Homo sapiens: one gene and its partner. The protein of the gene in region 1 interacts with the protein of each later gene in a pairwise test. Each region holds a gene or a part of one and is shown on either strand. Other genes may lie near its edges.

Region 1 (3,832 bases):
AAGTAAATGAATAAATAGAGAAATAAAAATGCCATGCATGGACCAATTATGAGTGTCTCATGGACTAGGGTTAGGATTAATCCAATTTTGTGTCTATGAGAGCAAAACAACAATAACAAATAGGCGACATACTGTTTGTATCCATCTACAACTTCTGTTTTTCTCCATAAGATTTGTGACATTCATCTGTGTTGATATGTGAACTTCTTTATTTAATTTTACCTCCATTTCTCTTGGCAGACTGGGCCTTTTCTAAAAATCCCCAGAGTGCTAAGTGTTAGACCCCCCCTAGGTAATCCTTTGCCAGCAGTCTGTGGCCTCCTAGCTACTCTTACTACTCAGTCCCCCTCTGATGTTCAGGTCTCACTGGCCTGCACAGATATTTGAACACACTCCAGGCAACCAGCCAGCTCATTTCATACCTCTAGTGGGCTTGCTGATGTTTTCGAAAAGGAGAAGCCCTTGCTAGCCGTGTTTATGTGGCTTACTGTTTCCTACCTCCCATCAGCAGACTTGCACACACGTCCAAGGATTGATTCTGGTGTCTGAAATGATCTTTCGAGGTGAGACAGAGGCTTTTTCTTTGGGCATCTAGTTAACCAACCTGTCAGTGTCAGACTACTAGTATAACCTGGCCAAATTTAGAACAAACCAACCCCCATTGGTACTTCAAAACGGTGACAGTGTTAGCATTCTGCTGTGCCCCTGTGCCAACTCTTCTAGTACTCGCCGTGCACATACCTTCAAGAAACCTCTTCCTTCCCATCTAGGACCTAATCCGGAGAGACATCCTGTACTACAAAGGCCGCATTGACATGGATAAATATGAGGTAGTTGACATTGAGGATGGCAGAGATGATGACTTCAATGTCAGCATGAAGAATGCCTTTAAGCTTCACAACAAGGAGACTGAGGAGATACATCTGTTCTTTGCCAAGAAGCTGGAGGAAAAAATACGCTGGCTCAGGGCTTTCAGAGAAGAGAGGAAAATGGTACAGGAAGATGAAAAAATTGGTAAGTGACCTGAGAGTAGAAAGAAGAACATGGCTATGAAGAACATAGGAGGTTTGAATTGGTTTCCATTTTCTTGGAGTCAGAGGGAAGATTTCTGTTGCAAACTGACTTAAGCTACTTTGGTGGTTCCTTATTATTAGGTTCTTTTTGGTAAGTACCAATAGCTTCCATTAGTCAGTGGTAGGTTTGAACTATAGGTTGTCCTCCCCTACTAGCTAAGAATATCACACTGAAAGCCAGCCTCAGGCTTGATTCTCCCAAACATACATTTATTAGCAAATAAACAAAAATCAGTTATACAACCTGTTCTGTAATCTTCATAAAGCCTGAGCTCTCTGTCATTAGGTATATAGTTTGTACTCCTGATTAGGATACTTCAGATGTTAACTAAATCCCCCTAGACTGTAGATTCAAATAATATGCACATACACTTCACACTTTCTGTGTGGAAGTATTTAAAGTAAATTATAGAAAATATAACAGGACTTAAAACCATGACCATTTTCATGATTTCAAATCACACTGAAACATACTTTTTTGCCTTACAATAAGTTGTTTCTCTTTTCCAGTGGGGATATAGATAGTAGAGATATTTTTCATGTTGCTTCCCAACTGTGGGATTTAGACGCCATTGGCTATAGCTTTGTGACTTATAAAGTACTGTCTGGTCTCTTGCTCATGGTCCTGCCTTTCTGTCATAAAAAATACCAAGCAACCAGACTTGTTAATTCCCTGAGAAGACATACAGTTTCTGTCTTTGCCCTATTGCTTATGGGAGTGAAATTGTACTTTAGAAGGCCTGAAAGCTCAAGTTTATGGAAATTGTCTCTAGAAAAATGGGCCTACTCATTGAATCCTGGTGCAAAAGGGTTCTCTTATCCTTCCATGTGGGCGATTGAAATTATCCAGAGGTAAGAAAGGATGGTCAGAAAGACAAATCTAACTCCAGTCTTCTCCTCAGAACTTGGGTAGAGTGCAAATTAATAACTCACTTTGAGTCTCATTGGAATCAGACTGCTTTCAGTATGTGGACACTCCATTGGGACATGATGTGGAGTGGCATATAAATGTTGCTGGCTACTTCTCTCAATAGCAAGCAGCAGCAGCCACTGACCTTGCCTAGGCTGTTAGAGTTATTAAAGGAATGGTCTTAGTGTTCAGACCCTGAATCAATTAGAAGGCCCCTGCCATTCCCATTGGCTCTAACACAATGTCTCCCACACAATGCCCTAATAAACCTGTGACTTTATCTGCTTCTAATAGAAAAGCTTCTAGAAATTACTTTCTGAACAGGCATATGTTCATCTTTAAAAATGTTGAGGTTTTTTTTTTTTGGTTTGATAATAACAGTAAATCACTTCCATTGTAGGAAATTTAGGGAAAAAGCAACAGAAAAGTACAAGAAAAAAAAAAAACACATGAACATACTCAGTAATAACTTTCATAAACATTTTGATATATATTTCCAGCCTTTTTTATGTGTCTAATTAGAAAAATCAAGGTGACTGAATCTTTTTTCTTTCTCTCCCCATACCTGCCTCTCTATAGTGGATAGATATAATTTTGTATCCTCATTTTCACTCATCATTATATCATTAGCATTTCTATCAGATCACTTCATATTTTTAATCATTATTTTATGAGGGTCATATAGTTTTATCATAGCTTTTTTAAACTTTTACTTTTTAATTATAAAATTAATGCATGACCATTATAACCATTTAAACAAATATGGAAATATATAAAGAAAACTTAGCATTCCTTCCCCTTCTCTGTCACTTCCATACTGAATGAAATAACCAGTGTTAACAGTGCAGTATGCATCTTTCCATACTTATCTCATGTCCATATAAACATATACAAACATAATACTTTTATATTTACAAAAATTATATTATATATATTACCTTGTAGGTTGCTTTTTTAAACTTAATTTATCATAAGTAACTCCCCAGATAAATAATATAGAATCTAACTATAACCCCTTGTATCAGTTAGGGTTCAACCAAAGAGGCATAACCTGTAGGAGATATATCATACCACTGCTGAAAATTGCATTACAAGGAATTGGCTTATGTGATTGTGAATGTTGACTAAGTGGCTCAGAATTCCATAGAGCAGGCAGTCAGAAATGGAGGATCACAGGCAGGCTCAAACCCATGGACATAGGCCAAAGCTGTCATCTACAGGCAGTCAGGAAGAGAAGCTCATGAGAAGGATGAAGTGGCACAGACATGGGCTAAAGCTGTGGTGCACAGGTAGAATTTCTGCCCTTTCTGTGTGAGACCTAGGCTCTACTTTTAAGGTCTTGCAACAGATTCAGTCAGGTCCATCCAGATTATCTAGGATATTGTCCCTTATATAAAGTCAACTGATTAGGGCCTGTATTAGCCCATGTTCACAGTGCTATAAATACCTGAGACTGGGTAATTTATGAAGAAAAGAGGTTTAATTGACTCACAGTTCTGCAGGCTTAACAGGAAGCATCACTGGGAGGCCTCAGGAAATTTAGAATCATAGTAGAAGGCAAAGGGGAAGCAAGCATCTTCTTCACATAGTGGCAGGAGAGAGAGAGAGCAAGAGGGAAGTGCCACATACTTTTAAACCATCAGATCTCGTGAGAACTCACCCACTATCATGAGAACAGCATGGGAGAAATTCCCCCCATGATCCAATCACCTCCCACTAGGCCCCTCCCCCAACACATGGGGATTACCATTCCACATGAGATTTGGGTGGGGACACAGAGCCAAACCGTATCAGGGGCTTTGATTATATCTGTAAAATACCTTCATGGCAACACCTACATTAGTGAGGA
Region 2 (3,832 bases), on another chromosome or scaffold:
AAGTAATATAATTGGCAAATGTTAAAAGGAGGAAAAAATGGACAAATGAAGTGCATTGACTTCTTCATCTTTTACTGACAGGGCTCAGAAGATATTTAAAGCAGATAGCTCAATTTGCAAATCTATGTCACTACCTGTTTAACATTAAATCCTAATGTAGATTTGCAAATGTTAATAGACGAATATGGATGTTTTACGACAGAAAATAAAACCAAGAAAAATAATATAATCAACTAGAAGCAGGTGGGAAGAGAGGGGTGAGGAAATATACTTACTAATTTCATCATTACTCATGGTAGGGAGCCAACAGGTACTGTCTGAAGAAATATGGTATAAAGTTACACTTATAAACACAATCACTAAAATAAAAAGATAAATCTTCCAAATTATCAGAATATATATATGTGTGTGTGTATATATATATGTGTATATATATATTATATATATAGTGTATATATATATTATATATATAGTGTATATATATTATATATAGTGTATATATATTATATATATGTGTATATATATATTATATATGTGTGTATATATATTATATGTGTATATATATATTATATATGTGTGTATATATATATTATATATGTGTGTATATATATTATATATGTGTGTATATATATATTATATATGTGTGTGTGTATATATATATATATATGTATGTCCTCCCCTCAAAAGCAAGCACAGTCCACATAGTGAAAGACTTTTTTAAGAAGAAAATATTTTTAAAAGGGCAAGCATGGTAGCTCACATCTGTAATCCCAGGACTTTGGGATGCTGAGGTGTGAGAACTGCTTGAGGCTAGAAGTTTGACCAGCCTGAGCAACGTAGCAAGACCTTGTACCTACAAAAAATTTAAAAATTAGCCAACTGTGGTGGTGCATGCTTGTACTTCTAGCTACTTGGGAGGCTGAGGTGAGAGGATTACTTGAACCCAGGAGTTTGAGACTACAGTGACCTATCATCGTGTCACTGCACTATAGCCTGGGCAACAGAGTAAGTCCTTATCTCAAAAAAAAAAAAAAAAAAAAAAAAGACGAAGAAAATATTAAAAATTGAACTTAAACTAAATAACTAAATATATCAGTTATTCCAATAAATATAAAGGAGCTAACTTACCTATTAAAATAGAAAGGATAATTACCAACAGGAAAGTAGTTAAATAAATTACAGTATATCTTTTAAAAAGAATGAGGCAGTTCTGGCCAGGTGCGGTGGCTCACGCCTGTAATCCCAGCACTTGGGGAGGCCAAAGCAGGCAGATCACCTAAGCTCAGGAGTTCAAGACCAGCCTGGCCAACATGGTGAAACCCCATCTCTACTAAAAAATACAAAAATTAGCCGGGCATGGTGGCAGGCACCTGTAATCCCAACTACTCAGGAGGCTGAGGCGGGAGAATGGCTTGAGCTGGGGAGGCGGAGGTTGCAGTGGGCCGAGATTGTACCACTGCACTCCAGCTTGGGGGACAGAGCAAGACTCCGTCTCAAAAAAAAAAAAAGAATGAGGCAGTTCTATATTCACTGACATGAAATAAACTCAGACATTAATTGAAAAAAGATGCAGAACTACATGTATGACACCATTTTTATAAAAATCTTTAAAATAGATACATGCATTTTATGTATGATTAGGTCTATGTATCTGAAAGAATATCAGAGTATCTGAAAGAATACAAAAGACACTGGTAGCAGCAGTTTGGAATAGGAACCAGATGACTGGAAGATGATGGGACACCAAAGAGACTTAGTTTTCACTGCAAACCCTTTCTGATTTAGTATCATGTACAAGTATCACCTTTATAAGAAATAAGCGATCTTGAGAAGGTTAGAAGGTTTAAGTGGGACGATATGTTGAAAGCCCTTTAGCACAATTCCTGGTGGGTGGTAATGCTAATTTAATGTTAAGCAGGAAGTGACGTAGATTTGCAAATGTTAGAACACTACCCAGCAAACACTCAGTGCCCAAGAAATGTTGATTTTCTTCCTCCCTCCCATTTTTATAATTTAATCCATACTCAACATTTAGAAATTGAAACAAGCTTACCAAATACTTGTTTCACATAACAGAGGTGATCCTAAAGGATGCTCTTAAATAAAAATATAGCCAAATCAATCACTTTCACATTGATTCCTATTAAGATTTCAGAGGAAATCTTACATATAATCTTTAATTTATGAATACAGTCCCTACTTCTTTAGCTATAAGAATCTTTACTCCCTAAACCTCTCTGGAAGATTAATAAGTAATGTGTAAGCAAACTATTACATATATTACTACAGAAATACAAACTTTGAAAACAATACTAATTGATGTGTTTAAAGGGTTTCCTAGGCAGAGAGAAAAAAAGAGGAATCAAAGAGTAAAGGGAAAGTTCTGCTGAGAGAGGAAGGGGGTGTTAGACACCCCCACTGACCACGGGAAAAAAAAAAAAACCCAAAGGGCTACTGATATGCACATTAGCAGCTGCAAATAATCTAAGAGTACACCTGAATTCTTCAAGCCCACAAGCCCTCCTCACAATAAAATATAAAATCAGAGGATAAACTGCAGGAAGATCTCAACAGGCCGGTTAGGTAAGGTGACTGGGTAGAAAAATAAGAGAGTATTACCTTAAAGAAGTATTACCATCTGCCAGTAACCCATGCAGAAGAAAAGCAAACCTAATTTGTGCAGGCTGAAGGGCCAGAGGCCATCAATTACCATCTAGGAAAGGAATCTTAAAATCACAGTAGACTATTTTTTAAAGCTGTCAGCCCAAGGTGCTGGCATAGCCAGGAAGGCTAAGATAAATGATGGACTTCATCAGCAAAGGTATCAGGGCCCAAATTGAATTTGTTAACATATTCTTGAACTGAACCATGATGTATCTAAAACTGGAACACTTTGTATAATAAATCAGCTTATTGCAGCTTAAAAAAGACAGGCAAGAATTTAGAAAAGAGAAACCGAGATGATCACAGAGACTAAATGGAGATAGACCAGAAGAGCCCAATGATTAAGGTGCTCAATTTCCTGACATTTATAATTCACCTTTCACTGTCTGTACCATACCTACTCCTTCCAAACCCAAACTCAGCTCTAAGAAAGACTGATCTCCACTCCACCTTCCAAACTTATTAAACCCATTATTAAATAAGGCTCTTTTCCCTACTTGGAATGCTTTTCTATTTTCTACATCCCTTTTCAAAATTGTATCCATCCTGCAACATTCTCTTCAAATTCTACACCCCTCATGAAACTTTCCATACCCCTACCCCCAGCATCTACTAACTCATGTCTTCTCTAGTTCCCTAACATACATAAATTAGGGCTTATATTACTTTTTAAAAATAAACTAGATTTAGATCATAATATAAGACACAATCAGGGCTGGGCACTGTAATCCCTGCACTTTGAGAGGCCGAGGCAGGCAGATCACTTGAGTCCAGCAGTTCGAGACTGGCCTGGCCAACACAGCAAAACCCCATCTCTACTAAAAATAAAAATTAGCTGGGCTTGGTGGCACACATCTGTAATCCCAGCTACTCAGGACGCTGAGGCACAAGAATTGCTTGAGTCTGGGAGGCAGAGGTTGCGGTGAGCCGAGATCGTGCCATTGCACTCCAGCCAGGGCAACAAGAGTGAAACCCCGTGTCAAAAACAAAACAAAACCAAACAAAACAAAACACCCTGGCATACCCCTCCCTCCCTTCCTAGCAAGCCACTCTATTGGATCTGGCATTTTTCACACTCATTTTTATATTTTTATTTTCTATGTATGTATCCCTAAATAATGTATGATTTTGCATGTTTTTTAAACTTTATATAAATAACATCACACTG

The links.
Region 2: the proteins of ARHGEF9 (region 1) and TBC1D22B interact in binary tests that used the Homo sapiens proteins (3 or more experiments, as listed by UniProt).

The regions. Positions count from the first base shown.
Region 1 is NC_000023.11:63,652,676-63,656,507, reverse strand, and holds part of ARHGEF9 (rho guanine nucleotide exchange factor 9), read left to right. Parts: intron 1-770; coding exon 771-1,014; intron 1,015-3,832. UniProt on the Homo sapiens protein: Acts as a guanine nucleotide exchange factor (GEF) for CDC42. Promotes formation of GPHN clusters.
Region 2 is NC_000006.12:37,264,143-37,267,974, reverse strand, and holds part of TBC1D22B (TBC1 domain family member 22B), read right to left. Parts: intron 1-3,832. UniProt on the Homo sapiens protein: May act as a GTPase-activating protein for Rab family protein(s).